Homo sapiens: one gene and its partners. The protein of the gene in region 1 purifies or fractionates together with the protein of each later gene. This does not show direct contact. Each region holds a gene or a part of one and is shown in the gene's direction. Other genes may lie near its edges.

Region 1 (7,623 bases):
TTTCCCTAAAAAATTTGAAGATATTTTATATTATTTTCTAGCTCCCAATGTATTTTTTCTTTTTTAAGAGACAGGGTCTCACTCTGTCACCCAGGCTGGTGTGCAGTGGCGTGATCATGGCTGACTGCAGCCTTGACCTCCTGGGCTCAAGCAATACTCCCACCTCAGCCTCCCAAGAAGCTGGGATCACAGGCACTCGCTACCATGCCCTACTATTTTTTTTAAATTTTTTTTTGTAAAGATGCAGTCTCCCTATGTTGCCCTGGCTGGTCTCAAACTCTTGGGCTCAAGTGATCCTCCCATCTTGGCCTCCCAAAGTGCTGGGATTAGAGGAGTGAGCCACCACACTCATTCCTCCCAATGTTGATGAGTTTGTAAGCCCAATGCTGTTCTGATAAGGAATCAATTAAATACAATTAAAAATTTTATTTTTGTGTGGGCACACAGTGGTGTATATATGTATATATTTATGGGGTACATGAGATACTCTGATACAGACATGCAATAAGTAATAATCACATCATGAAAAATGGAGTATCCATCCCCTCAAGAATTTATCCTTTGTGTTACAAACAATCCGATTATACCCTTTTAGTTATTTTAAAATGTACAATTAAATTATTATTGACTATAGTCACCCTGTTATGCTATCACATACTAGGTCTTTTTCATTATTTCTATGTTTTATACCCATTAGCCATCCCCACTTCTCCTCAACCCCACACTACTCTTCCCAGCCTTTGGTAACCATCCTTCTACTCTCTATCTCCGTGAGTTCAACTGCTTTGGTTTTTAGCTCTCACAAATAAGTGAGAACATGCTAAGTTTGTCTTTCTGTGCCTGGCTTATTTCATATGACATAATGACCTCCAGTTTCATCCACGTTGTTGCGAGTTACAGGATCTCATTCTTTTTCATGGCTGAATAGTAAGTACTCCTATGTGTATACGTACTACATTTTTTTAAATCCATCTGTTGATGGACACTTAGTTTGCTTCCAAATTTTAGCTATTGTGAATGGTGCTGCAACAAAAATGGGAGTACAGATATCATTTCGATATACTGATTTCCTTTCTTTTGGGTATATACCCATCAGTGGGATTGCTGGATTGTATGGTAGCTCTATTTTTAGTTTTTTGAAGAAATTCCAAACTGTTCTCCATAGTGGTTGTACTAATTTACATTCACACCAACAGTGTACGAGGGTTCCATTTTCTCCACATCCTCTCCAACATTTGTTATTGCCTGTCTTTTGGATAAAAGCCATTTAAACTGGGGTAAGATGATATCTCATTGTAGTTTTGATTTGCATTTCTCTGATGATCAATTATGTTGAGTACCTTTTCATACACTTGTTTGCCATTTGTATGTCTTCTTTTGAGAAATGTCTATTCAGATCTTTTGCCCATTTTTAAATCAGATTATTAGATTTTTTTTTCTTTTGTTTGTGCTCCTTATATATTCTGGTTATTACTCCCTTGTCAGACAAGTAGTTTGCAAATATTTTCTCCCATTCTGTGGCTTGTCTCTTCACTTTGTTGTTTTCTTTGCTGTGCAGAAGCTTTTTAACTTGATGTGATCCTGTTTGTCCATTTTTGCTTTGGTTACCTGTGCTTGTGGGGTATCTCAAGAAATTTTGCCCAGGCCAATGTCCTGGAGAGGCTCCTCAATGTTTTCTTGTAGTAGTTTAATAGTTTCAGGTCATAGATTTAAGTCTTTTTTTTTTTTTTTTTTTTTTTTTTTTTTTTGAGACAGAGTCTCGCTCTGTCACCCAGGCTGGAGTGCAGTGGCGCGATCTCGGCTCACTGCAAGCTCGGCCTCCCAGGTTCATGCCATTCTCCTGCCTCAGCCTCCCGGATAGCTGGGACTACAGGTGCCTGCCACCACACCTGGCTAATGTTTTGTATTTTTAGTAGCGACAGGGTTTCACCGTGTTAGCCAGGATGGTCTCAATCTCCTGACCTCGTGATCCACCCACCTCGGCCTCCCAAAGTGCTGGGATTACAGGCATGAGCCATTGCGCCCAGCCAGATTTAAGTCTTTAAGCCATTTTGATTTGATTTTTATATATGGTAAGAGATAGGGGTCAAGTTTTATTCTTCTGCATAGGGATATCCAGTTTTCCCTGTATCATTTATTGAAGAAACTGTCTTTCCCCCAGTGTCTGTTCTTGGCACCTTTGTCAAAAATGAGTTCAATACAGATATATGGATTTGTTTCTGGATTCTGGATTCCATTCCATTGGTCTGTGTCTGTTTTTATGCCAGTACCATGCTGTTTTGATTATTATAGCTCTGCAGTATAATTTGAAGTCAGGTAATGTGATTCCTCCAGTTTTGTTCTTTTTGCTCAGGATAGCTTTGGCTATTCTAGGTCTTTTGTGGTTCCATTCTAGGTCTCTTAGGGTTGTTTTTTCTATTTCTGTTAAGAATGTCATTGGTATTTTGATAGGGATTGCATTGAATCTATAGATTGCTTTGGGTAGCAATGGTGTTCTGATTCTTAATCCTAATGTTATACTGATTTTTAAAAAATGTATTAACAAAGCAACAACATGAAGTCACATGTTCTGATTTTTTTTGTCTGTATATGCAACTTGTTCTTTCTCTCTGGAAGCTTTTAGAATTTTTTTCTCTGTGTCCAGTACTCTGAGATTCTATAATGATGTGTCTTGGTGTGGGTTTGATTTGTTGTTCTGGATACTTAGGGTGCCTGTTCAATTTGGAGACTGTTCTTCAGTTTGGGATAGTCCTTTTAAATAGTTTTTTTGATGATCTCTTCTGATTCTCTGTTCTCTTTCTGGAACTCTAATTTAGAACTCTTATTTAGTCCAGACCTTCTGGACTGATCCTTTATTTTTATGTTTTCTCCTAAAGCAGAACAAATTTGATCTTCTTCAACTTTATCCCCCAGCCTTTTTATAGAATTTTTATTTCTGTAACATGGTTTTAGTTTCCAAGAGCTCTTTTTGCTTATCCGAATAGTAGTTACTCTCAAGTAGTTTCCTGTTGTTATTTTATGAATGCTCTATAATATCTCTTTGAGAAGTCTGATGATGGATTATTTTTAAATGCTTTGTTGTTTCAGACGGAGTCTAGCTCTGTGGCCCAGGCTGGAATGCAGTGCCGCAATCTCAGCTCACTGCAACTTCCGCCTCCCAGGTTCAATCAATTCTTCTGCCTCAGCCTCCTGAGTAGCTGGAACTATAGGCGCGTGCCACCATGCCCAGCTAATTTTCGTATTTTTAGTAGATACGGGGTTTCACCACGTTAGCCAGGCTGGTCTTGAGCTCCTGACCTCAAGTGATCCGCCCGTCTCGGACTCCCACAGTTTTGGGATTACAGGCGTAAGCCACCGTGCCCGGCCTATTTTTAAATTTTTTATTTTTAGTGTTTTTTCCCCTCCCTTGCAATTTATGTTTCCTCTCATTTGCTTTTCCCTTCTTGTTTGTTTCTTACTTGTATATTAAAGTCCTTCCTTAAATGTCTAATGATCTCTGGCTATTTATTTTGAAGAGTAAGAACACTAAAAAGCTGATTGGAAAGTGGAATGAGGGCTGGGGCACGTAGGCCAAAGTGTTACATGTGGAATTCATTCTAGTTATCTATATCATTAAGAGAACTCTGATAAGGGTATCTTTGGGATTTTTCGTTTTGGCTGGTGAGATTCCCCAGAGAGGGTTTTCCAAAGGTATAATCAGCCTCTTGTTTACCTTTGTTTCGTAATAAATATTCTCAAGTTTGCTAAACCAGTTAACATTCTTCTGTTTGATTTCCAGCTTCCAAAATGTTGCTGTTGTTGTCTCCTTTCCCTTTCTTACGGCCTGGAGAGTAATACATAATTTCACCTTAACTGGAAGCCCATGTATGCATGTATGTATGTATGTATGTATGTATGTATGTATGTATGTATGTACGTACTTATTTGAGACGGGGTTTCGCTGTGTTGCGCAGGCTGCACTTGAACTCCTGGGCTCAGGAGATCCTCCTGCCTCAGCCTCCGGAGTAGCTGATACCACAGGTGCGTGCCACCACGTCTGGCTGCCCGCATTATTTCTCTAGGATTTTTACTGGAGGTCATTTTACTGGAGGTCAACTGCAGGATCGTATAGGAAGGTTTTGACACAAATTTTCTGATTGCCTCAAAGCAATATGTATATATGAAAAGAGGTAAGCGTCCGTATAATAATTGTTTGTTTTGCAACAAGCATTTAATAACTTTCACCGGCACTGCGCACGCTACCTATCTGCCTCAATACTCCGCCCGGCGGTGGGCAGGATATAATGCAAGAGACGTCTGAAAAAGCAATGAGATGCGCATGACAGCTGGGCGAAGACAGAGGGCAAACTTAAAAGGACCAAGCGCATAGACCACGCCTCTGAAATTGGGGAACGAGGAGGGGTTTGATCTTGTCGATGATTGGCTGGTCTCTGACCAATCACGGACAGCGATTGATATTTCTAATCGTCGTGATCCACCTCCCCAGGACCTTGGAGCCACGTTTACAAATAGGAATAGGGTACGTGGGAGGGATAGAACGTACAGCCAATAAAATCATGTGGCGCCGATGGGCGTGTTGAGGCCGCTGCCTGGCTTAGGGCGGAAACAGATTCTCTGCATAAGAAGGGGAACGAAAGATGGCGGCGGAAACGCTGCTGTCCAGTTTGTTAGGACTGCTGCTTCTGGGACTCCTGTTACCCGCAAGTCTGACCGGCGGTGTCGGGAGCCTGAACCTGGAGGAGCTGAGTGAGATGCGTTATGGGATCGAGATCCTGCCGTTGCCTGTCATGGGAGGGCAGGTGAGAGGCGTATAAGGGGCGAGGGTCTGGGCAGAAGAGGAAGCGGGTAAGAGATAGAGGAAGAAGGGCAGCTCCGGAGTCTGGGGCTGGAGCCTACGGGGAATCGGGAAGAGTAGGTATTGCTTTTACGGTGACCCCTGGGGGTCGCAGACTGAGACCAATTCTCTGGGGGCCAGGAATTGGGAGAGGTGGGGCTTCCCGCTGTCAACCTTCAGGTCTCAGTTTATGATCGAAACACCCGGACTCCGCCCCCGTGGAGAAATGGGAGCGCCCTCTCCTCTCACCCACTAAATACAGCTGGAGGGCTTATGGCTTATTCTGTCTTCGACTGATCTCTTCCCCAGGGTTTGAAGAGGGATTTCGTTGTTCTCCCTGATCCCAGCCTTTCTTTGCTTCCTTGCCCCCCGACCCTCCCTTCTTTCCCAGAGCCAATCTTCGGACGTGGTGATTGTCTCCTCTAAGTACAAACAGCGCTATGAGTGTCGCCTGCCAGCTGGAGCTATTCACTTCCAGCGTGAAAGGGAGGAGGAAACACCTGCTTACCAAGGGCCTGGGATCCCTGAGTTGTTGAGCCCAATGAGAGATGCTCCCTGCTTGCTGAAGGTGAAAGGGACTGGGTTAGATAGAATGAGGGCTTGGAAACTAGCAGTTCATCCAAGAACTGGAGTCCACTGAATGAGGCAGGATCTAGGGGACCTGTAGTGGTTAAGAAGACCACTGGAGGAGTAGACAGATTACACGGACAGGAAAGAAGCAAAGAATCCTGCAACCACTGATGACACTTTGCTGAACGTAGGAGCAGGTTAGGATAGAAGATCTCAGAAAAGGGCTAAAGCAAGATTGAGGGTCTGCGTGGGGTAGGAGGAGTACTTCCTTAAGCCTACTTGCTAAAGTCACCCCCTGCCCTATCACTCTGCTCCAGTATCCTGTTTTATTTTCATCGTAGCACTTTTCATGATCTGAAATCATATTTACTGAATCAGTTTGTTTATTTTCGGTCTGATTCCCCGCATTAGAGTGTAAACTCCATGAGGTCAAAGAATTAATCTTGTTCACAGTTGTATTCCCAGTGGCCAGAACAGTGCCAGGAATGTTCAAGAAGTTCAATTAATATTTAATTTTGGGTTCTTCTATGTTTCCCTAATATAATTGCTTCAGGGATACCATAATTTCTTATCTTTATGGAGGGCAAATAAGGATTTAAAAAATCTTTTAAAAGGGAGGAATGGAAAGACCACAAGTGGAAAACAGACTTTAGAGATATCTCTCCAAGTCACAGAAGGAAAGCAGCCCTCCCTCCTTACTGAAAGTCTGGAGAATTGAGAGTGGAAGTGAAGGGAAGAGAATTGAGTGTGTAAGTAGATGAGAGGTTATGTGTCTTGGAGCCAGGAGACTCTGGTTCCAAGAAAAGATGTCTGCACTCCATCCCCCTGATTGTTTATTTTTTAATTGTCAGACAAAGGACTGGTGGACATATGAATTCTGTTATGGACGCCACATCCAGCAATACCACATGGAAGGTAACTCACTCCTATATTTTCCTTAAGCCCTTAGTGTCATATCATGGAAGTTCCCCAGTTCCCTCCTCCTCCTCCTCCTCTTAAGAGTAACAGTGCTTCACTGTGGCTTCCCTTGCAGATTCAGAGATCAAAGGTGAAGTCCTCTATCTCGGCTACTACCAATCAGCCTTCGACTGGGATGATGAAACAGCCAAGGTGGCAAGAGTGTGGGATTCAGGAAGAAAGGGTTCTGGCCACCGGCTGAGAGCCCTGACAAGAAGGGGAGGGTCAAGATTAGCTGATCTGTTTCTTGGGGCTTGGTGGCCATTAGGACAAAGTTTCCTGGGGCCTGGGGGCACAGGCCATTCTTTTGTCTCTTTGGGGACGCAGTGCCATCCTTCCTCTTTGCTATCTTTCTCATGTCCCCCATTCCTGCCTCATGTCTTCTCCAGGCCTCCAAGCAGCATCGTCTTAAACGCTACCACAGCCAGACCTATGGCAATGGGTCCAAGTGCGACCTTAATGGGAGGCCCCGGGAGGCCGAGGTTCGGGTGAGTCTTGAGAGAGGGAAGTTGACACTCCCACAGGGACAGTTCAGATTCTAAGGGAAGAGGGTTGCATCTTATAGTCGGGGCGGGGGCGGGGGGGGTCCCCTCCCAGACCCTAAATCCAAAGTTTAAAACATATTTCCAGCCGGGCGCAGTGGCTTATGCCTGTAATCCCAGCACTTTGGGAGGCCGAGGCGGGCAGATCACCTGAGGTCAGGAGTTCAAGACCAGCCTGACCAATATGGTGAAACCCCATCTCTACTAAAAATACAAAAATTAGCCGGGCGTGGTAGCGGGTGCCTATAGGCCCAGCTACTCGGGAGGCTGAGACAGGAGAATTGCTTGAACCTGGGAGGCGGACGTTGCAGTGAGCCGAGGTCGTGCCACTGTGCTCCAACCTGGGTGACAGAGTGAGACTCTGTCTCAAAAAAGAAAAGAAAAAAAAAAACCCACATTATTTCCAGGCCGGGCACGGTGGCTCACGCCTGTAATCCCAGCACTAGATATCTCTCAAAACTCTCCTATGCTTTCTTGTGGTCGGTACCTTCACTCTCGCCTGCATCCCTGCAAACAGCTTCTTTACAAGTGCTTCTCATCTAGTGGTCCTTAGCTGAGTGGAGGCAGGCAAATATAGAATGCAAAAAGTTCCTTGGGTGATTCTCATGTATTCACAAATATACACACCTGTAAAGAATTACATGACACCTGCCAGAGTTATCTTTCCATAATGCAGATTTGTACCTGCAGTTGTGTGCTGGTAAGTGTTGGACCCCCAGA
Region 2 (7,897 bases), on another chromosome or scaffold:
ATACCCCAGTGCCATGTCTTGGGGCAAGAGAAAATGAAGACAGACCTGGAACATGAACATGGTGGCCTTGCCAGAAAGCAAGTGTGTGTTGCTGAAACATCAGCAGAGATTGTCAAAGGGATAAAGAGATAACTTAAAAGGGTTCCTATTGACCAAAATGCGACAAGTTGACCATCTAAAATCAAATCATAATTATAGTTCAATAGGACACATTGAGTCTCTTAAAAGCTTCCAATCCGTAATGACCATCAAGGCCCATAACCTCAAAAGAGTAAAGTTAAAATAAAGTTCAGAAAAGGTTAGCTGCAATAAAACATGAGTTTTAGTAATTTTAACAAGAAGGGGATGAAGCTATAGATGCATTTTTATTCCTTCTTTTAACTATGTTGCCCCTTATAATGTATAGCTTTGCCTTATTTTTCTCTGTCTGAGTAAGGATAAAGAGTAAAGGCCAGGCACAGTGGCTCACACCTGTAATTCCAGCACTTTGGGAGGCCGAGGCGGGCAGATAACTTGAGGCCAGGAGTTTGAGACCAGCCTGGCCAACATGGTGAAACCCTGTCACTACTAAAAATACAAAAATTAACTGGAATTGGTAGCACATGCCTGTAATGCCAGCTACTCTGGAGGCTGAGGCACGAGAATCGCTCGTAATTCCAGAATTCGAGAGGTGGAGTTTGCAGTAAGCCAAGATTGCGCCACTGTACTCCAGCCTGGGTGACTGAGTGAGACTCTGTCTCAAAAAAAAAAAAAAAAAGAAGAAGCTGTGAGTAGGCCACATAGTTCCAGAAAATGCAGAAATCCCCCCTCCCCTCCCCAACACACAGGAAGTGGCTCAGGAGATTACACACAGAAGGAAAGTGTGTCTGCTGGGGTTTTGCAAGTTGGCTAATTTGAAAGGTGACTGGAGGAGGTGAAAAAATGGTGCAAACTTCATTCATTCATTAAATGAGTTATAAGAAGACAGACACAAGTGTCCATTATGCTAACAGAGCTCTGTGTTAAACACCCCACCAGCATCGCCTCATCTAAGCCTCAGAAGAGCTATGTGGGAAAGAAACTTTTATCCCTATTTTATAGATGAGGAAACCAAGGCTCAGAGAACTGAGGGCCTCCCCCGGATCCAAGTCCACCTAGCTGCAGTCACCCCACATCCTCTGCATGTCACAGGTGCTCAGAAAGATGCTGAAGGCACCTGGCCCTTCACCTTCGGAAAGCCAAAATGAGCACGGCCCCTAAAGAGGGGATTGACAGCCTTTTCTGGAAAAAATGGAAGTTTGAATCTGAGGAGGTGTCCCTCAACAACAGGTGCTGCTCCCCAAATCTGGGGCCAAACGCAGCAGTTGTTCCCCCACTTAGACCCCTGAGACCCATCTATATGGTTTTTCAGAGCCAGGACACATCCCCAAAGGTCATGGCCTTTGGTGGTTAGCATTGACTTGGGGCCCATCACATGCCAGAGGCTGCCCGAAGTGCTTAAATGTTATTATCTCATTCGATCTTCACAGTCCTGATGGAAGTGACTCTTCTTAGAGTCTTCCTATCTCACAGATGAGGAAACCGAGGCACAGAGAGGTTAAGTGGCTTGTCTAAGAGCTCACAAAAAGAGCGATGGAGCTAAGGCTTGGCCCCAGATATTAGATCCCGAACCCACGCCTTAACCAGTGACCTGCACTGACTCTCAAAGAAGGAAGCTGGTGCCTGGGAAGGAGGGTGCATAGTGAGGGTGTGCATGGGGTGTGTGTGTTTGTGGGGTGGCCAGCACTCTCCGGGGGCACTTTGCCAATGAGTTCAGCTCCCATGAAGTCCACTGTTGTTCTCCTGACCAGCCACTCAGTCTTGATTTACTTGGCCCAGGGCCACTGGCACACCTCACCCCCTTACCCGATTCCTTGCTGCAGACCCCAAATCTCGACTCTCACATCCCTATCCAGCCCATACCACGAGGCTCCCATCTCCAGGCAGGGCCCTGTGGTGGGGCAGGGCCTCCCCCAGATGCCCCTTACTCATGACCAGCTCACAGGATCTTCCCATGATGCATTTCCTCTGGGGGGATCAGCCCAGATGCTGCAATAGACAATTGTGGAAGTAACCAGGTGGACAAGACTTTCCCCCTCATGTCCTGGGGTTCCTGGGGGCACAGTATCCTTGTGAATGGCCACTGAGTACTCCCACCCCTCCCACCACAACCCCCGGGATTTTGTCCTGGTGCGTTTTTCCAGATTATCCTAGCCCTTCCTCCCAGGATGGATGTCCAGAGCAGGGCGGGGGCTGAGCCTAGAGCCCTGCCAAAAGAGCAGGACCCCAAATTCTGAGCCCCTTACTTGCCTCACCTGCTCCCACCCATGCTTTCTTCATTCCTCCTCCAAAAGCCCCAGCTCCCCACTGCAATCCCTTCTGCACCCAGCCAGGTCCTATGACACACACCTCCCCAGTGCACACAGACCTGCCCAACTGTGGGGCTGCCCACTGGGCATTTCATAGGTGGCTCAGTCCTCTTCCCTCTGCAGCTGGCCCCAGAAACCTGCCAGTTATTGGTGCCAGGTCTGTGCCAGGAGGGCGAGGCCTGTCATTTCTAGTAATCCTCTGGGCAGTGTGACTGTACCTCTTGCGGCAACTCAAAGGGAGAGGGTGACTTGTCCCGGGTCACAGAGCTGAAAGGGCAGGTACAACAGGTGACATGCCGGGCTGTCTGAGTTTATGAGGGCCCAGTCTTGTGTCTGCCGGGCAATGAGCAAGGCTCCTTCCTGTCCAAGCTCCCCGCCCCTCCCCAGCCTACTGCCTCCACCCGAAGTCTACTTCCTGGGTGGGCAGGAACTGGGCACTGTGCCCAGGGCATGCACTGCCTCCACGCAGCAACCCTCAGAGTCCTGAGCTGAACCAAGAAGGAGGAGGGGGTCGGGCCTCCGAGGAAGGCCTAGCCGCTGCTGCTGCCAGGAATTCCAGGTTGGAGGGGCGGCAACCTCCTGCCAGCCTTCAGGCCACTCTCCTGTGCCTGCCAGAAGAGACAGAGCTTGAGGAGAGCTTGAGGAGAGCAGGAAAGGTGGGACATTGCTGCTGCTGCTCACTCAGTTCCACAGGTGGGAGGGACAGCAGGGCTTAGAGTGGGGGTCATTGTGCAGATGGGAAAACAAAGGCCCAGAGAGGGGAAGAAATGCCCAGGAGCTACCGAGGGCAGGCGACCTCAACCACAGCCCAGTGCTGGAGCTGTGAGTGGATGTAGAGCAGCGGAATATCCATTCAGCCAGCTCAGGGGAAGGACAGGGGCCCTGAAGCCAGGGGATGGAGCTGCAGGGAAGGGAGCTCAGAGAGAAGGGGAGGGGAGTCTGAGCTCAGTTTCCCGCTGCCTGAAAGGAGGGTGGTACCTACTCCCTTCACAGGGTAACTGAATGAGAGACTGCCTGGAGGAAAGCTCTTCAAGTGTGGCCCACCCCACCCCAGTGACACCAGCCCCTGACACGGGGGAGGGAGGGCAGCATCAGGAGGGGCTTTCTGGGCACACCCAGTACCCGTCTCTGAGCTTTCCTTGAACTGTTGCATTTTAATCCTCACAGCAGCTCAACAAGGTACATACCGTCACCATCCCCATTTTACAGATAGGGAAATTGAGGCTCGGAGCGGTTAAACAACTCACCTGAGGCCTCACAGCCAGTAAGTGGGTTCCCTGGTCTGAATGTGTGTGCTGGAGGATCCTGTGGGTCACTCGCCTGGTAGAGCCCCAAGGTGGAGGCATAAATGGGACTGGTGAATGACAGAAGGGGCAAAAATGCACTCATCCATTCACTCTGCAAGTATCTACGGCACGTACGCCAGCTCCCAAGCAGGTTTGCGGGTTGCACAGCGGGCGATGCAATCTGATTTAGGCTTTTAAAGGGATTGCAATCAAGTGGGGCCCCACTAGCCTCAACCCTGTACCTCCCCTCCCCTCCACCCCCAGCAGTCTCCAAAGGCCTCCAACAACCCCAGAGTGGGGGCCATGTATCCAAAGAAACTCCAAGCTGTATACGGATCACACTGGTTTTCCAGGAGCAAAAACAGAAACAGGCCTGAGGCTGGTCAAAATTGAACCTCCTCCTGCTCTGAGCAGCCTGGGGGGCAGACTAAGCAGAGGGCTGTGCAGACCCACATAAAGAGCCTACTGTGTGCCAGGCACTTCACCCGAGGCACTTCACAAGCATGCTTGGGAATGAAACTTCCAACTCTTTGGGATGCAGGTGAAACAGTTCCTGGTTCAGAGAGGTGAAGCGGCCTGCCTGAGGCAGCACAGCTCTTCTTTACAGATGTGCTTCCCCACCTCTACCCTGTCTCACGGCCCCCCATGCCAGCCTGACGGTTGTGTCTGCCTCAGTCATGCTCCATTTTTCCATCGGGACCATCAAGAGGGTGTTTGTGTCTAAGGCTGACTGGGTAACTTTGGATGAGCGGTCTCTCCGCTCTGAGCCTGTTTCCTCATCTGTCAAATGGGCTCTAACCCACTCTGATCTCCCAGGGCGGCAGTAAGTCTTCAGCATCAGGCATTTTGGGGTGACTCAGTAAATGGTAGATCTTGCTACCAGTGGAACAGCCACTAAGGATTCTGCAGTGAGAGCAGAGGGCCAGCTAAGTGGTACTCTCCCAGAGACTGTCTGACTCACGCCACCCCCTCCACCTTGGACACAGGACGCTGTGGTTTCTGAGCCAGGTACAATGACTCCTTTCGGTAAGTGCAGTGGAAGCTGTACACTGCCCAGGCAAAGCGTCCGGGCAGCGTAGGCGGGCGACTCAGATCCCAGCCAGTGGACTTAGCCCCTGTTTGCTCCTCCGATAACTGGGGTGACCTTGGTTAATATTCACCAGCAGCCTCCCCCGTTGCCCCTCTGGATCCACTGCTTAAATACGGACGAGGACAGGGCCCTGTCTCCTCAGCTTCAGGCACCACCACTGACCTGGGACAGTGAATCGTAAGTATGCCTTTCACTGCGAGAGGTTCTGGAGAGGCTTCTGAGCTCCCCATGGCCCAGGCAGGCAGCAGGTCTGGGGCAGGAGGGGGGTTGTGGAGTGGGTATCCGCCTGCTGAGGTGCAGGGCAGATGGAGAGGCTGCAGCTGAGCTCCTATTTTCATAATAACAGCAGCCATGAGGGTTGTGTCCTGTTTCCCAGTCCTGCCCGGTCCCCCCTCGGTACCTCCTGGTGGATACACTGGTTCCTGTAAGCAGAAGTGGATGAGGGTGTCTAGGTCTGCAGTCCTGGCACCCCAGGATGGGGGACACCAGCCAAGATACAGCAACAGCAACAAAGCGCAGCCATTTCTTTCTGTTTGCACAGCTCCTCTGTCTGTCGGGGGCTCCTGTCTGTTGTCTCCTATAAGCCTCACCACCTCTCCTACTGCTTGGGCATGCATCTTTCTCCCCTTCTATAGATGAGGAGGTTAAGGTCCAGAGAGGGGTGGGGAGGAACGCCGGCTCACATTCTCCATCCCCTCCAGATATGACCAGGAACAGACCTGTGCCAGGCCTCAGCCTTACATCAAAATGGGCCTCCCCATGCACCGTGGACCTCTGGGCCCTCCTGTCCCAGTGGAGGACAGGAAGCTGTGAGGGGCACTGTCACCCAGGGCTCAAGCTGGCATTCCTGAATAATCGCTCTGCACCAGGCCACGGCTAAGCTCAGTGCGTGATTAAGCCTCATAACCCTCCAAGGCAGTTACTAGTGTGATTCCCATTTTACAGATGAGGAAGATGGGGACAGAGAGGTGAATAACTGGCCCCAAATCACACACCATCCATAATTCGGGCTCAGGCACCTGGCTCCAGTCCCCAAACTCTTGAACCTGGCCCTAGTGTCACTGTTTCTCTTGGGTCTCAGGCGCTGGATGGGGAACAGGAAACCTGGGCTGGACTTGAGGCCTCTCTGATGCTCGGTGACTTCAGACAGTTGCTCAACCTCTCTGTTCTCTTGGGCAAAACATGATAACCTTTGACTTCTGTCCCCTCCCCTCACCCCACCCGACCTTGATCTCTGAAGTGTTGGAAGGATTTAATTTTTCCTGCACTGAGTTTTGGAGACAGGTCAAAAAGATGACCAAGGCCAAGGTGGCCAGTTTCCTATAGAACGCCTCTAAAAGACCTGCAGCAATAGCAGCAAGAACTGGTATTCTCGAGAACTTGCTGCGCAGCAGGCACTTCTTGGCATTTTATGTGTATTTAATTTCACAATAGCTCTATGACAAAGTCCACCTTTCTCATCTCCAGGAAACTGAGGTTCAGAGAGGTTAAGTAACTTGTCCAAGGTCACACAGCTAATAGCAAGTTGACGTGGAGCAATCTGGCCTCAGAGCCTTTAATTTTAGCCACAGACTGATGCTCCCCTCTTCATTTAGCCAGGCTGCCTCTGAAGTTTTCTGATTCAAGACTTCTGGCTTCAGCTTTGTACACAGAGATGATTCAATGTCAGGTTTTGGAGTGAAATCTGTTTAATCCCAGACAAAACATTTAGGATTACATCTCAGTTTTGTAAGCAAGTAGCTCTGTGATTTTTAGTGAGTTATTTAATGCTCTTTGGGGCTCAATTTTTCTATCTATAAAATAGGGCTAATAATTTGCACCTTATAGGGTAAGCTTTGAGGACAGATTAGATGATACGGTGCCTGTAAAACACCAGGTGTTAGTAAGTGTGGCAATGATGGTGACGCTGAGGCTGATGTTTGCTTAGCATAGGGTTAGGCAGCTGGCAGGCAGTAAACAGTTGGATAATTTAATGGAAAATTTGCCAAACTCAGATGCTGTTCACTGCTGAGCAGGAGCCCCTTCCTGCTGAAATGGTCCTGGGGAGTGCAGCAGGCTCTCCGGGAAGAAATCTACCATCTCTCGGGCAGGAGCTCAACCTGTGTGCAGGTACAGGGAGGGCTTCCTCACCTGGTGCCCACTCATGCATTACGTCAGTTATTCCTCATCCCTGTCCAAAGGATTCTTTTCTCCATTGTACAGCTATGAAGCTAGTGCTCAAAGAAGTGAAGTCATTTACCCCAGGCCCCCTGCCAGTAAGTGACAGGGCCTGGTCACACTTGGGTTTATTTATTGCCCAGTTCAACAGGTTGTTTGACCATAGGCGAGATTCTCTTCCCTGCACCCTGCCGGGTTGCTCTTGGTCCCTTATTTTATGCTCCCGGGTAGAAATGGTGTGAGATTAGGCAGGGAGTGGCTCGCTTCCCTGTCCCTGGCCCCGCAAAGAGTGCTCCCACCTGCCCCGATCCCAGAAATGTCACCATGAAGCCTTCATTCTTTTGGTTTAAAGCTTGGCCTCAGTGTCCGTACACCATGGGGTACTTGGCCAGATGGCGACTTTCTCCTCTCCAGTCGCCCTCCCAGGCACTAGCTTTTAGGAGTGCAGGGTGCTGCCTCTGATAGAAGGGCCAGGAGAGAGCAGGTTTTGGAGTCCTGATGTTATAAGGAACAGCTTGGGAGGCATAATGAACCCAACATGATGCTTGAGACCAATGTCACAGCCCAATTCTGACATTCATCATCTGAGATCTGAGGACACAGCTGTCTCAGTTCATGATCTGAGTGCTGGGAAAGCCAAGACTTGTTCCAGCTTTGTCACTGACTTGCTGTATAGCCTCAACAAGGCCCTGACCCTCTCTGGGCTTCAAACTCTTCACTGTGAAAGGAGGAAACCAGAGTAGGTGATGTGACACCAGGAAAGATGGATGGGTGTGGGGGAATGTGCTCCTCCCAGCTGTCACCCCCTCGCCACCCTCCCTGCACCAGCCTCTCCACCTCCTTTGAGCCCAGAATTCCCCTGTCTAGGAGGGCACCTGTCTCATGCCTAGCCATGGGAATTCTCCATCTGTTTTGCTACATTGAACCCAGATGCCATTCTAACCAAGAATCCTGGCTGGGTGCAGGGGCTCTCGCCT
Region 3 (7,987 bases), on another chromosome or scaffold:
GAGGCAGGAGAATGGTGTGAACCCGGGAGGCGGAGCTTGCAGTGAGCCGAGATCACGCCACTGCACTCCAGCCTGGGTGACAGAGCGAGACTCCGTCTCAAAAAAAAAAAAAAAAAAAAAAAAGACAGGGGAATTACAAAGGAGAAAGAGTAATTCACACAGAGCCGGCTGTGCGGGAGACCGGAGTTTTATTATTACTTAAATCGGTTCTCCCCAGTCATGTGGGGATCAGAGTTCTTAAATATAATTTGGCAGGTAGGGGCTTGGAAAGTGGAAAATGCTGATTGGTCAGATTGGAGATGGAATCATAGGAGGTGGAAGTTAGGTATTCTTAATGTCTTCTGTTCCTGGGTGCGATGGTAGAACTGGTTGGGCCAGATTACTGGTCTGGCTGGTGTCAGCTGATCCATCGGGTGCAGGGTCTGCAGAATATCTCAAGCACTGACTTTAGGTTTTACAATAGTGATGTTACCCCAGGAGCAATTTGGGGAGGACCCAAAGGCTGCATGACCCCTAAATTGTAATTTCTAATCTTATAGCTACTTTGCCAGTCCTGCAAAGGCAGACTGGACCCCAGGCAAGAAGAAGGGTCTTTTTGGGAAAGGGCTGTTATAAATTTTGTTTCAGAGTCAAACCATGAACTGAATTCCTTCCCAAAGTTAGTTCAGCCTACGCCCAGGAGTGAACAAGGACAGCTTAAGGGTTAGAAGCAAGACAGAATCAGTTAGGTCTGATTTGTTCCGCTGTCATAATTTCCTGAGTTACAAATTTGCAAAGGCGGTTTCACAGGGGCCGTTCTGTTGAGGAGGGGTGTGCCTCCTGAGGCTGGCTGAGGGCAGAGGTGGAAGGTTTGGAGGCTAGAAATGAGAGTTCCCAGGTAATGGCTTCTATTTTCTCCAAAAAGTAGTAGAGAGATCTTTGCTGGGGGAGAGGGGCGGTGGAATGGGGGCTTGAGAAGACTGGAGGCTTTGTTTTGTTTTGTTTTGTTTTGTTTTGTTGAGACAGAATCTCACTCTGTCACCCAGGCTGTAGTGCAGTGGCGTGATCTCAGGTCACTGCAACTCCCACCTCCTAGGTTCAAGTGATTCTTCTGCCTCAGAATCCCAAGTGGCTGGGGCTACAGGCATGTGCCACCACACCTGGCTAATTTTTTTTTGTATTATTACTATTTTTTTTTTTTTGAGACGGAGTTTCGCCTTTGTTGCCCAGGCTGGAATGCAATGGCGCGATCTCGGCTCACTGCAACCTCTGCCCCCCTGGGTTCAAGTGATTCTCCTGCCTCAGCCTCCTGAGTAGCTGGGATTACAGACACACGCCACCATGCCCAGCTAATTTTGTGTTTTTAGTACAGACGGGGTTTCTTCATGTTGGTCAGGCTGGTCTTGAGCTGCCGACCTCAGGTGATCCACTTGCCTCAGCCTCCCAAAGTGCTGGGATTACAGGTGTGAGCCACTGCCCCGGCCTTTTTTTGTATTTTTAATAGAGACAGGGTTTCACTGTGTTTCCTAGGCTGGTCTCGAACTCCTGGCCTCAAGTGATCTGCCCACCTCAGCCTCCCGAAGTCCTGGGATTACAGGCATGAGCCACCGTGCCTCAATGACTAGAAGCATTTGAAATGCCCTGAGGGGAGTGGGCAGGGGACACAGGGAAACAGGATTCTTGGGCTGGGTGAGAGCCCAAGTGAGGGTAGAGACCCTGAGTTTGCAGTTGCCCCAACCTGCCCCAAAACAAGATGGCTATTGGGTTTTCCAGGCAGGTGTGATGGGAAAACTCTGAGGCAAGAAAGTTAGTAACAGGCTGGACTCCTGGGGAGGGTGGGAGGACTTGGGGGAAGAGGAGGACTTGAGGCCAGGGAAGAATCAGGAAGCCCCCTGTCTTAGTCCGTTTGGGCTGCTATAACAACATATCTTAGACTGCATAATGTATAAACAACAGAAATTTATCAGCCGGGTGCAGTGGCTCACACCTGTAATCCCAGCATTTTGGGAGGCTGAGGCAGCTGGATCACCTGAGGTCAGGAATTCGAGACCAGCCTGACCAACGTAGTGAAAACCCATCTCTACTAAAAATACAAAAAATTAGCCAAGCATAGTGGTGTGTGGCTGTAATCCCAGCTACTCAGGAGACTGAAGCAGGAGAATTGCTTGAACCACCCCCCAACCCCTGGCCAAAAAAAAAAAAGAAATTTATTGCTAATAGTTCTGGGGGGTTGGGAGGTCCAAGGTCAAGGCGTCAGCAGATTTGGTGTCTGGTAAGGGCCCGTTCCTCATACCTGGGGCCTTCTAGCTGTGTCTTCATGTGGCAGAAGGGGTTGACAAGCTCCCCAGGCCTCTTTTTTCTTTTTGAGACGGAGTCTCGCTCTGTTGCCAGGCTAGAGTACAGTGGCATGATCTTGGCTCACTGCAACCTCTGCCTCCTGGGTTCAAGCGATTCTCTTGCCTCAGCCTCCTGAGTAGCTGGGACTACAGGCACGCGACACCACACCCAGCTGATTTTTGTATTTTTAGTAAAGATGGGGTTTCACTATGTTGGCCAGGATGGTCTTGATCTCTTGACCTCATGATCCACCCCCCTCAGCCTCCCAAAGTGTTGGGATTACAGGCGTGAGCCACCGCATCCGGCCCCCAGGCCTCTTTTATAAGGGCACTAGCCGCATTCAGGTGGGGCAGCCCACCCAATCAACTCCCAAAGGCCCCGCCTGTTTTTTTTTTTGTTTTTTGTTTTTTGTTTTTTTTTTTTTGAGACAGAAGTCTCGCTCCGTCGCCCAGGCTGGAGTGCAGTGGCGCGATCTCGGCTCGCTACAAGCTCCGCCTCCTGGGTTCACGCCATTCTCCTGCCTCAGCCTCCTGAGTAGCTGGGACTACAGGCGCCCGCCACCACGCCCGGCTATTTTTTTCTATTTTTTAGTAGAGACAGGGTTTCGCCGTGTTAGCCAGGATGGTCTTGATCTCCTGACCTCGTGATCCGCCCGCCTCCGCCTCCCAAAGTGCTGGGATTACAAGCGCGAGCCACCGCGCCGTGCCGGCCCCGCTTCTTAATACCCTGACATTAACATTAGGTTTTCAACATGTGAGTTTTGAGGGTCACGGACATTCTGACCATAGCACCCTTGGACCAATAGGACAGGCAGAGGCTGTGGAATGACTCTGGGGTGGGTGAAGTAGGGAACACTGCTTTGCTTTAGAAAGGGAATCCCTCTTCTGGGGCTGGGAGTGGCTTCCCGCAGGGGACTACCGTGCAAGGGAGAAGAAATCTGGCATCTCTCCAGAATGCTTCTCATTGCAGGGCCGCTGGCCTAGAAATGGCCTCAAATGGAAGCTGCCACCCGATCCTGGTGGAGGCTTTGAGCTAGGCTAGAGATCAGGACTCCAGGGTTCAGTGCGCACGTGCTGCCCCTGCACTAGGTAAGTTCCTTCCTCTATGGACCTTCAGCCCTCCCCTTGCAGTGGAGATAGTGTGCACAGCCCTGGCTCCCCTCCCTGACCCTGGGAAAAGGCTGAAGGGAGACCCCGTGCTGTTCCTAGGAAAGGAGATCTTCCCAGCGGTGGGAGGGTGAAGGGGGAGCCTCCCTCTCCTCCAGTCCTGTCTTCCCAGCCCCAGGGCGGAGCTCTTCCTGTGTGTAAGCCTCCACGCGGGAAAAGCTGCCAGTGCATTCATTCTCTCGAGGAATCCCTGCAAACCCTCCCAGATGGGTGGCGTTATCAGCCCGATTTTACCCGAGAGGCTCCTGAGGGAAAGGGACCTGTCTGAGGTTGGTGACAGACACCCAGTTCGATCCCATCTGTGGTGCCGCCAGGCCGCTCCCTTTTCTGCTCCTCTCCCGAGAGGCTGCAGAGTTCTTTCCCTCCCAGCAGGGTCCTAAGGACCCCGGCGGTGCTCCAGGGGAGCCAACATCCCCTGCTTTGGAGGACGGACGGGTCGGGTCGCAGTGAGCAGCTCCGTGGTGTCCCCTAGTTCTACACTCAGACCAAGAGAGGGCTGTGAGGGCTGTGCTCTTTTTTTTTTTTTCTTTTTGAGACGGAGTCTCGGTCTGTCATCCAGGCTGTAGTGCAGTGGCGCGATCTCGGCTCACTGCAACCTCCGCCTCCCGGGTTCAAGCGATTCTCCTGCCTCAGCCTCCCAAGTAGCTGGGAGTACAGGCACCCGCCACGACGCCCGGCTAATTTTTGTATTTTTAGTACAGATGGGATTTCACCATCTTGGCCAGGCTGGTCTTGAACTGATCTCAGGTGATCCTCCCGCCTCGGTCTCCCAAAGTGCCGGGATTACAGGCGTGAGCTACCACGCCCGGCCTGGCTGTGCTCTCTTAAAGGGCCGAAGCAATGCGGGTGCTGGCGACCGACGCAAGGAGGTGACGCACAGGGGACTTAAGGAGCGGACCGCCGCGGGAGGACGCGCCCAGCTCAGGGGGACTCCCTCTGCGCCCCCCACGCTGGGTCTCCGGCCCACGCGTGGCCCGGCTGGTCTGCGGAGCTAGCGCCAGGGCCGCCAGAGGGCGCCCGGGGCGGAGGATGGGGCGGGAGCCGGGGAAGCCCGGGAGGTGGTGGCCGAGTGGGCGCCGCCCCTCTGGGTCTGCGGCTCAGGTCGAAGAGTCGGCTGCGTGGGCCGGGGAATCCGGATTCCGGGGGTTCAACGCCCAGGGGTTCCATGAGCCCCTACTGTTCTCGGACGCCCGGCCGGCCCCGACGCACTCGTCCTAGCACCCCTCCCCTGTCCGGTCCTCCGGCCCCTCCGCCGTCGCCCCTCCGGGGTCCAGCCGGGCGGGGCTGCTCCAGGGTCGCGGCTGGCGCGGGTCCCCGGGCCCTGGCCCTCCGGTGCCCCGGGCCAAGGAGAGAAAACTTGAGCATCCACGCACAGGGGTGGGGAGCAGGATCCCACTCTGAGGGTGCACTGCCCCGCCCTCTCCGGGTCTGCCTCGGCCCCGCCCGGGCCCCAGGCCCCGCCCCCTCCCCTCGGCCGGCCCGAGAGCTCCGGGGGCCGCTGCAGCCGCCCAAGCGCCCGCCATGCGCGCTGCCCGCGCCGCGCCGCTGCTCCAGCTGCTGCTCCTGCTGGGGCCGTGGCTGGAGGCTGCGGGCGTTGCGGAGTCGCCGCTGCCCGCCGTGGTCCTTGCCATCCTGGCCCGCAATGCCGAACACTCGCTGCCCCACTACCTGGGCGCTCTGGAGCGGCTGGACTACCCCCGGGCCAGGATGGCCCTCTGGTGAGAGACCCGGGCATTGGCACCGAGTGGGCACCTAACCCCCAGCTTCGCAGATGGCCCCCGCCCCCGGCGGCCCTGTCTGCTCGCTCCCTGCCCAGACACCACCTAGACAGGCCCCTCCCCTCACAGACGGCCCTGCCAGCCCGAGCCGCCAGAGAGGACCCCGAGCCCCCTGCTGGGAGACGACAGACCTCTGAGGCCACAGGCCGACGCGGGACACCCACCCCTCCTTCTGGTCCCCTACTCCTTCCTCTTGGGGCCTTCCCTGGGTGTAGGTTGGGCCCAGCCAGCCCTTTTCACCCCAGCCTTCAGGGCCCAGCTCAACCCCAGTGGGACCTGTGGTTGGCTGGATTTGAAGAGGAGCAGACAGGAACCTCTGAAGTCCACTGGGGCCCAACGTGGCAGGGATCGACCACGCTGGAGGCTTCCGGGCACAGGTTGGGGGTGCCATCAGCACTGGGCTCCGGGCTGTGCAGGGGAGTCAGACCGGCCCCCCCACCGCCCCCGTGCTGGGGCCAGCTCTCTTGGTAGATCTTGGTAGAGGGGCGGGATCCTGTCAGCCAAGGGCAGTCCCCCTTCCTGGAGCCTCTCCCCTCTGGCATCTCTGTACCCCCAGGGCACTGGGATCGAAGGCCACAACCCCTGGTCTGTAGACACCAGAACAGGGAGGAGTCCCTGGCTGAGGTTGGGGGTAAACTGAGAAAAATGACAAGCCACCCTCTTCAACACACCACAGTTGGGCTGGGGGGGTGGAGCCCTGGCCTGGGGAGGCCGCCCACAATTACCACAGTTTGGGAGTTTGTTAGTTCCCACCCCTGTAAGACTTGACACGTAGTCTTCATTTCTGGGGAATTGGCTTAAAGGGGCAGCATCACCCAAAACCTGGGCACTTGGCTAAACCCCCACCTCTGTTATGGGGGCCCCTTCCCCAGGAGAGGGGAGGCTGTGCCCCATGACAGCAGAGCTTGGACCCATCTGCATTCTTAGGGACGCTTAGAGCATGGTTTGGTCCTTATTACAACCTGGGGGTGGAGGAAAGCAGCAGCTCTTCTGTCTAGTCCCCATTCAGAGAGGGACAGGGGCTGGCCTGTGGTCACACAGCCACAGGTCACATAGGTAGGTATCTGCCCACCTAACGAAGGTAACCAGGGAATGCACCAGGTGTGATCCTTAAAGTCGAGGTACTTTTCATCTTTCAAAATGCATTCGTTGGCCAGGTGTGGTGGCTCACGCCTGTAATTTCAGCACTTTGGGAGGCCGAAGTGGGCAGATCACCTGAGGTGAGGAGTTCAAGACCAGCCTGGCTAACATGGTGAAACCCCATCTCTACTAAACAAACAAAAATTAGCCGGGCATGGTGGTGCACACCTGTAATCCCAGGTACTCAGGAGGCTGAGGCAGGAGAATCACTTGAACCCGGGAGGCGGAGGTTGCAGTGAGTCGAGATCATACCACTGCACTACAGCCTGGGCGACAGAGCAAGATTCCATCTCAAAAAAAATGCATTATTCTTCTCTTATCTTTGTCCATGACATAAGCAGGACAGCTTAAGTTATAGAGGGAGGACGTGAAGCCCAGAGAAAGATGGGACTTGCCTGAGGTCACACAGCAGGTCACAGAACTGTGGTGGGGACCTGGCTGTGCTGCCTCCAGCCTCTCTGCTGTAGCACACCTACCCTTCACTGTTCCAAGGAGAGCTCGACCTCAAAGGTGTTAGTGCTTTGGGGTCAAGGCTGCCTTGGGGTTCAATCCTGTGGCTGTGCCCCCTCAGCCTTTTTTCTTCCCGTCCCCAGGTGTGCCACGGACCACAATGTGGACAACACCACAGAGATGCTGCAGGAGTGGCTGGCGGCTGTGGGCGATGACTATGCTGCTGTGGTCTGGAGGCCTGAGGGCGAGCCCAGGTGGTGATCTGAGGGGAAGGGTGCTGGGGAAGATGGAGAACAGCTGCAGCCCAGAGAGGAAAAGGGACAGCCCAGAGCCACAGCCTCCAAGCCAGGGCTCTGTCCACTGCCCTGCAGAGAGGGAGGGGCATGTACCCCATGGGAACATCTCACCTCTATCCCCTCAGGTTCTACCCAGATGAAGAGGGTCCCAAGCACTGGACCAAAGAAAGGCACCAGTTTCTGATGGAGCTGAAGCAGGAAGCCCTCACCTTTGCCAGGAACTGGGGGGCCGACTATATCCTGGTGAGGAAGTCTGGCTAGAATCGGGCTTCTGAAAGGCGGTAGTATCCGTCCCTGATAGAAATCTGGGTATAGGCTGGGTGCAGTGGCTCACGCCTATAATCCTAGCACTTTGGGAGGCCAAGGCAGGTGGATCACCTGAGGTCAGAAGTTCGAGACCAGCCTGGCCAACATGGTGATACCCCATCTCTACTAAAAATACAATAATTAGCTGGGCGTGGTCGCAGGCGCCTGTAATTCCAGCTGCTTGGGAGGCTGAGGCATGAGAATGGCATGAACCTGGGAGGTAGAGGTTGCACTGAGCTGAAATCATGCCACTGCATTCCAGCCTGGGTGACAAGAGTGAAACTCAGTCTCAAAAAAAAAAAAAAAAGAAAAAGAAATCTGAATGTGACTGACCCACCCGAAGGCTGGATCCTTCGGCAGGCTATCTGGGCCAGAGCCCAGACCAGATGTTCAGATTGGATCCCTATGTTAAAAGCTCAGACTAGGTACTAAGCCTGGACCCCTCAGATAGATCCCGTTGTATACACTTTACTGAGCCTCGATTTCTGGGCTAGAGCCCAGGGTATAAATTGAGCCTGGATCTCTGAACTAGAGC
Region 4 (7,023 bases), on another chromosome or scaffold:
TTGGTATTATTTTGACAAATGAATTGTGAGGATTCAAATATAAGAAAGGGATTATTCTTGGTAGAGTTAACAAAATTGTACCAAATGACTTTTTGTGTTAAACACGATTCATTCACCCAACCCTAGAAAGGAGCCTGAATGAAGTCTAATTTGGGTGACAGATTCCCACACAAATTAGATGTATGTCATTCAGGTATAGAGAATTGATTTTATATTAGAAAAAACAAACCTTGTAAACAGTTTTATAAATAACTGTTTCATGATTTTCCTTAAGTAGTACTGATCTCTTACATATAGATCGTTTGTGTCTTTCGCCTCAAGTTAGTATAGAACAGGGCAAGTGGCAAAGCTCGAGGAAAGTGTGACCTGAGGTACATGCTGTCAGCTTGATGCTGGAGTTTGGCCTCTCAAATCTCTAACCTGTTAAATGAAGTTAATTAGGATTAATTTTTTTTAATGTATGTTTACTACTGAAAATAAGTGCTCGGCCAGACGCAGAGGCTCACGCCTGTAATCCCAGCACTTTGGGAGGCCGAGGCTGGCAGATCACCTGAAGTCAGGAGTTTGAGACCAGCCTGGCCAACATGGCGAAACACTGTCTCTATTAAAAATACAAAAATTAGCTGGGTGTGGTGATACATGCCTGTAATCCCAGCTACTCGGAGCCTGAGGCAGGAGAACTGCTTGAACCCAGGAGGCGGAGGTTGCATTGAGCCAAGATTGTGCCATTGCACTCCAGCCCAGGCGACAGAGTGAGACTCATGTCTCAAAAAAAAAAAAAAAAAAAAGAGGAAAAGAAGTGCCCAATAGCTTCAATGGATGCCACATAATTTTGGAATAATTTTTACAATCAGGAATTTCATTGTCCAAGCCCCTTAGAAAAAGAAGCAACCCAGCCCCATACCCAGAAAGTCAAGCTGTATAGTGCTGTTCCTTAGTGAGACGGTCAACTCTCAGTAGAAAAATCTCCTGTTTGGATTAGTGCTTAGTTGACCTATTGTGTTCAGTTCCTCTAACATGAGTAACTTCTATTGGATAGGAAATTTTGAAGCTCAAAGGGTGTAATGAGAGTTAACATTACTGATTTTCCACTGTTACTTTTTAGTGTTTTCATAACTTGGATGTGTTAACCTATGGCCCATCAACTATGCTCCTAGTCTCAGGTGACAACATGTTCAATTTAAGATGGCAGGCAGTACAGTGGACCTCTCTCATCCCATGGGAAGGAACCCAGGATGTTTATTATGTAGTATTGTATAGTCTCTGCAGCAGTAATAGAGAAAGTTAAAGGTAAGCGGTGGAGAAGTAAAATCTAGAGTTTCTAATATAACCCTTCTCACTTTTCTTTTCAAAAAAAATAAGAGGGTCTCACCATGTTGCCCACACTGGTCTCTATCGAACTCCTGGGCTCAAGCGATCCTGTCGTCTCAGCCTCCCAAAGTGCTAGGATTACAGGCATGAGCCACTCTGCATGGCCAAGCTCACTCTTCTTAAAGGTCTGCTAGTAAGAGGGTTTCTACTTTTTGAAACAAATTCATGATTACCTAAAATGAAGCTAGGTTATGAAGTATATATAAATATGCAGCCCAATAGGCTGGGTGTGGTGGCTCACACCTGTAATCCCAGCACTTTGGGAGGCTGAGGCAGGCAGATCACTTGAGGTCAGGAGTTTGAGACCAGTCTGGCCAACATGGTGAGACCACATCTCTACAAAAAATACAAAAATTAGCGGGTGTGGTGGCCTGTGTGCGCCCATAGTACCAGCCACTTGGGAGGCAGAGGCAGGAGAATCACTTGAAGCCAGGAGGCAGAGTTTTCAGTGAGCTGAAATTGTGTCACTGTACTTCAAGCCTGGGCAATGGAGTGAGACTGTCTCAAAATATATATATATTTGCAGCCCAATAAAGATACTTAGATAAAACTATTGGGTTTATTCCTTGAAAACTAGGGCATGTGTAGCTAGATCTGGCTCATAAAAAGCAAAGTTATTTACATATATTTTAAGGTAAAATTGCCTCTGATAAATGTCAAAGAGGAAGTTTAGGTCTTTCTTCTGGCAGAAAGCCAGAGAGTAAGTGCTGAATGTGACGCAGAATCATGTTAGGTAACAAGGACTTTGAGGTAAGTGGCTGAAGTCTTCTGTGGAGTCAGCCGACTCTTGCAGGATTGTGTGGTATCAGTCACCTTTAGCATTTGCCAACCCAACTCTGATCATTCTTCTTCTTTCAAGGTATCTCAGCGTTTGAGTCAGCCAGGAGTAGCAATAGGTTTGGCTTGGACTCCCTTAGGTGGAGAAATCATGTTCGTGGAGGCGAGTCGAATGGATGGCGAGGGCCAGTTAACTCTGACCGGCCAGCTCGGGGACGTGATGAAGGAGTCCGCCCACCTCGCTATCAGCTGGCTCCGCAGCAACGCAAAGAAGTACCAGCTGACCAATGGTAGGAGCCTGCACCCGGCCAGGCAGGCGTGACCCAGGAGGCGGTACCTTCCATGGCGGAGACTGGCATGAGCTCGAGACTGCCAGTTACACATCTAGCAAAGTACACACCGTTTTGAACCCCTGTGGAAATCCTAGTTCCCATTTCAGGACTATTTGACTAGTGCCTGAACTAGAAACTAATTCAAAAGGTTTATTTTGTTTTAATACGACTTAGAGTAGAATGGAACTGTTCTTCCACACCCTCACCCAAATTGTACTGTCCACCAATATTTTGAAGAATTCATTTACCCAAAACATTCATTTTTGTTTGTGACTTTTTTTTTAGGAGAAAAAGAAAACAGGTTTAATTTTTCTACATTAAAGTCCCTTTTTCCTTTTTAAAGCTTTTGGAAGTTTTGATCTTCTTGACAACACAGACATCCATCTGCACTTCCCAGCTGGAGCTGTCACAAAAGATGGACCATCTGCTGGAGTTACCATAGTAACCTGTCTCGCCTCACTTTTTAGTGGGCGGCTGGTACGTTCAGATGTAGCCATGACTGGAGAAATTACACTGAGAGGTCTTGTTCTTCCAGTAAGTATGAAAAAACAATTTATATGGTTATTTTTTATTTAATTTTTGAAAATTAATATTATTTTTAAATACGGGTTTGCCTTCTTTCTATGAAAACCTTGGTTTTAAGTATATATTATATTTTTATGCCTGTAACTAATTCATATTTTAAAATTTTGATCAAATAAAAGAAAAACTGACAATTTTTCACATTTTCCTTTTTTTTTTTTTTTTTTTTTTGAAATAGACAGGTCTCACTCTGTTGCCCAGGCTGGAGTGCAGTGGTGTGACTGTAGCTCACTATAGCCACCAAGTCCTGGGCTCAAGCGATCCTCCTGTCTATCTCCCGAATAGCTGGGACTATAGGAGCACGCCACCATGCTCAGCTAATTTATTTTATTTTGCGTAGAGACAGGGTCTCTCTGTGTTGTCCAGGCTTGTCTCAAACTCCAGGTCTCATGCAGTCCTCTCATCTCCACCTCCCAAAGTGCTGGGATTACAGGCGTGAGCCACCACATTCAGCCCACGTTTCCCATTCTAAGATTTGCTAAGGGAAAAAAATATTAGTGTGGTCATCAGAAATATTGGCAGTTACATGAAAATTTGAGGCCTTGTTCTACTTGACAAATTGTTAAAGATATAGCACATGTGCAAAATGGGATAGTAGTTGTTTTTAAGCTTTAAGCCCATTTCTTAAATTTGAAGTTTCTTTGAGACCTCCTGTCCCCCTGCAGAAAACTTTGCTAGTATAGAATGGAAACTCTAATAAAGATTAACCATATCTAATGACTACATTTTGAAAAGGTTCTATACATGTGGGGTCTTGAGGCTCCAGATCCTAAACTGCTTATAAAAATAGTGTGATAAAATGTACAGAACTTGAGAGTATTTAAAGTTGTTAGTTGAGTATTAGTCTACAACAGACTAGACTACAATTTTAGTCCACAACAAGATTTTGGCAGGTTCATAGCAAGATGAGGAAAAAAAAAAAGAAATAGTCTTTTTTTCTTTTTTCTATCGAGATGGAGTCCGGCTCTCTTACCCAGGTTGGAGTACAGTGGCACAATCTTGGCTCACTGCAACCTCTGCCTCCCAAGTTGAAGTGATTCTCCTGCCTCAGTCTCTCAACTAGCTGGGATTACAAGCATGCGCCACCACGCCCGGATAATTTTTTCTATTTTTAGAACCTCCATAGAACAAATGGGTTTTCTACTTGGTCCCCTCTCAGAGCAAATCGTAGCCCAAGTAAAGGCTTCTGCAGCCTCAGGAGAGACAGCCACAGCGGCCTGGGGTACACCTTCAGCTCCAGACCATTACAAGAGGCAGGATGGAAAGCAGCAGCACTTGAAAGAAAGGCCTGTGAAAGCTGGAGAAAACCTCCTTTGAGAACAGAGGACAAGACGGGGCTTTGGGATTTGAAAGTGGTCAAAGAATTATTCAGGAAAAAACTATAGTGAAAAACAATTTGTTGTTAGAACTCCAACATCTAAAAGGAGTTCTAACAAACAGGAAAATGGAATGGAACAAATTATCCAAGAAATAACTGAACATTTCCTAGAAGTTAAGGCATCTTGAGATCGAAAGGACCATTACTAACCAGGAAAAACATTTCATCCCCTTGACTTTTCAGATTACTGAGGATAAAGCGGCCTCAGCACTGACACTGGATGTGCAGTACCTTCAAAACTATGAGGGAAAATGGGCCAGGCGTGGCAGCTGACGTCTGTAATCCCAGCACTTTGGGAGGCTAAACAGGAGGATAGCTCAAGTCCAGGAGTTCAAGACCAGCCTGGGAAATATATCTCTACAAAAATTGTTTTAAAAATAGTAAGGAGGCTGGGTGTGGTGGCTCACGCCTGTAACTCCAACACTTTGGGAGGCCAAGGTGGGCGTATCACTTGAGGTTAGGAGTTTGAGACCAGCCTGGCCAACATGGTGAAACCCTGTCTCTACTAAAAATACAAAAAAATTATCCGGATGTGGTGGCGCATGCCTGTAATCCCAGCTACTCAGGAGGCTGAGGCAGGAGAATCGCTTGAACCTGGGAGGCAGAAAGTTGCAGTGAGCCAAGATTGTGCCACTGCACTCTAGCTTGGGTGACAGAGTAAGACTGTCTCAAAAAAAAAAAAAATAGTAATGAAAGCTGTGAGGGAAAATGTTTTACATCTAGTCTTGTATACATGGCCTTAGTATCAATCAAGTGTGAAAGTAAAATATTTTCAAACATGCAAGGAATCAGTTCATCTTACACTCTTTTGAAGAAGGTACTTTGAAGGAGTACTTCAGCAGCATGAACAAAACCTTGAAAGAAGATGCCAGTGGGGCGGGAAGGCCTGGAGCAGCCAGCCAGTCTTAATTGGAGCAGATGCAACACATTACCCCAAAGCAAGAATACTCCATACTCTTCAAGTTCCTGTGGGCCAGGAATTCAGGAGAGGCTGAGCTGGGTTCTTGTGGCCCAGGGTCTCTGGCCTTACAGTCTAGGTTCCAGCCAGGCTGCAGTCACATGAAGGCTGACAGGCTGGAGAAACTGCTTCCATGGTGGTTGACTCATGTGACTGGCAAATTGGTCCCATCTAGTGGCAGGAGGCCCCAGTTCCTCACCTGATGGACTTGCCCATAGGCTGCTTGAGTGACCTCAGACATTATGACTGGCCACCTCCAGGGCAGGTGATCAAGAGAGATTCAGGCAGCAGCTCTCGTTTTTTGTGACTCAGCCGTGGAGATCATACAGCATCACTCCCACCACACTCTGTTTCTTACCGAGTCACAAAGCCTGGCCCACATTCAAGCAGGGGGACCATTGTAGACATGTTTGAAAGCCACCATAGGAGCCTAGTTTAGGGATACATTTTCTTCATTAACCAGCATGGAGGTTCTGGCTTTAAACCTGTAGAGAGGGAAGTAACCCCAGCACACAGCTAAGCTCTGCAGGAGCGGCGCTCATGGTCAGAATCACGTGCTGCTTTTTCAGATCAACCTAAAGACTAGACGGTTGTGATTACACCTGAATGCCAATTTACTTTGACAGCATTTATAAAAACAATCATTGACAGAAGAGGAACTCATACCTATCAACAATTTAGAATCCCCCTCATCAGAGTCTTTAATATAACACCAATTGAAACATTAAAAAAAGGTTACTACTTATCCTTTTTCCTGGCTTTCCTAGCTCATGCTATAACAAAACGGAAGATGATTTGGATGTTTTAAAATAGTAGTGGTTAAATTCAGTGAAAGAAAGCTGGGTCAGGGTTTCTTTCAGCTTGAGGGTGATCATTAACCCTAAAAACTTTTTTCTCTCCTTACAGGTGGGTGGAATTAAAGACAAAGTGCTGGCGGCACACAGAGCGGGACTGAAGCAAGTCATTATTCCTCGGAGAAATGAAAAAGACCTTGAGGGAATCCCAGGCAACGTACGACAGGATTTAAGTTTTGTCACAGCAAGCTGCCTGGATGAGGTTCTTAATGCAGCTTTTGATGGTGGCTTTACTGTCAAGACCAGACCTGGTCTGTTAAATAGCAAACTGTAGGTCCAAATCTCAATTTTTTAGAATTTTAAGTTATGAAGTGCTCAAAGGTACTGACACAGTTGATTTTATTCACACCATTAGGGGTATGCAAGATGTCCCTGTTTTATAAACATAATCACAACAGTAATAAACCTCAAGTAGTGGCTAGTGTTTAGTATAGAAATATAAGATGTTGATTTAGTAAACTGATAAAAATCGAATTCTTGTCTTTTTAGTGGGATCCTTACTGTCCCTGGAAAGATATAGCATAGTGGTTCTCAGCACAGTCTCCAGAACAGAAGCATCTGTAGTACCTGGTAACTTGTTAGAAATGTACATTCTCAGGCTCCACAGCAGGCCGCCTGAATCAAATCCTGGGAGGTGGGGACAGAAATCTGTGTTTTAAGAAGCCTTCCAGGTAATTCTGCTGCACACTCAAGTTCAGGAACCACCGGTATAGACCATTACCTTAGTGGATTTACCTGTAGAGTTTATTGGATCCTGAAACCAATCAATTA

What was found.
Region 2: the proteins of OS9 (region 1) and SERPINA1 purify together in Homo sapiens (affinity purification with western blotting; 4 studies listed by BioGRID). This does not show direct contact.
Region 3: the proteins of OS9 (region 1) and CERCAM purify together in Homo sapiens (affinity purification with mass spectrometry; 3 studies listed by BioGRID and IntAct, with this or other methods). This does not show direct contact.
Region 4: the proteins of OS9 (region 1) and LONP2 purify together in Homo sapiens (affinity purification with mass spectrometry; 3 studies listed by BioGRID and IntAct, with this or other methods). This does not show direct contact.

Annotation. Positions count from the first base shown.
Region 1 is NC_000012.12:57,689,525-57,697,147, forward strand, and holds the start of OS9 (protein OS-9 isoform 1 precursor), read left to right. Parts: upstream 1-4,607; 5' UTR 4,608-4,637; coding exon 4,638-4,799; intron 4,800-5,225; coding exon 5,226-5,402; intron 5,403-6,255; coding exon 6,256-6,319; intron 6,320-6,437; coding exon 6,438-6,514; intron 6,515-6,750; coding exon 6,751-6,849; intron 6,850-7,623. UniProt on the Homo sapiens protein: Lectin component of the HRD1 complex, which functions in endoplasmic reticulum (ER) quality control and ER-associated degradation (ERAD).
Region 2 is NC_000014.9:94,385,603-94,393,499, reverse strand, and holds the start of SERPINA1 (alpha-1-antitrypsin precursor), read left to right. Parts: upstream 1-4,897; 5' UTR 4,898-4,940; intron 4,941-7,897.
Region 3 is NC_000009.12:128,415,875-128,423,861, forward strand, and holds the start of CERCAM (inactive glycosyltransferase 25 family member 3 isoform a precursor), read left to right. Parts: upstream 1-4,982; 5' UTR 4,983-5,003; coding exon 5,004-5,200; intron 5,201-5,329; exon of another isoform or gene 5,330-5,637; intron 5,638-5,648; exon of another isoform or gene 5,649-6,912; intron 6,913-6,993; coding exon 6,994-7,104; intron 7,105-7,271; coding exon 7,272-7,389; intron 7,390-7,987. UniProt on the Homo sapiens protein: Probable cell adhesion protein involved in leukocyte transmigration across the blood-brain barrier. Does not express any beta-galactosyltransferase activity in vitro.
Region 4 is NC_000016.10:48,345,277-48,352,299, forward strand, and holds part of LONP2 (lon protease homolog 2, peroxisomal), read left to right. Parts: exon of another isoform or gene 1-1,635; intron 1,636-2,230; coding exon 2,231-2,438; intron 2,439-2,823; coding exon 2,824-3,014; intron 3,015-6,304; coding exon 6,305-6,526; 3' UTR 6,527-7,023. UniProt on the Homo sapiens protein: ATP-dependent serine protease that mediates the selective degradation of misfolded and unassembled polypeptides in the peroxisomal matrix.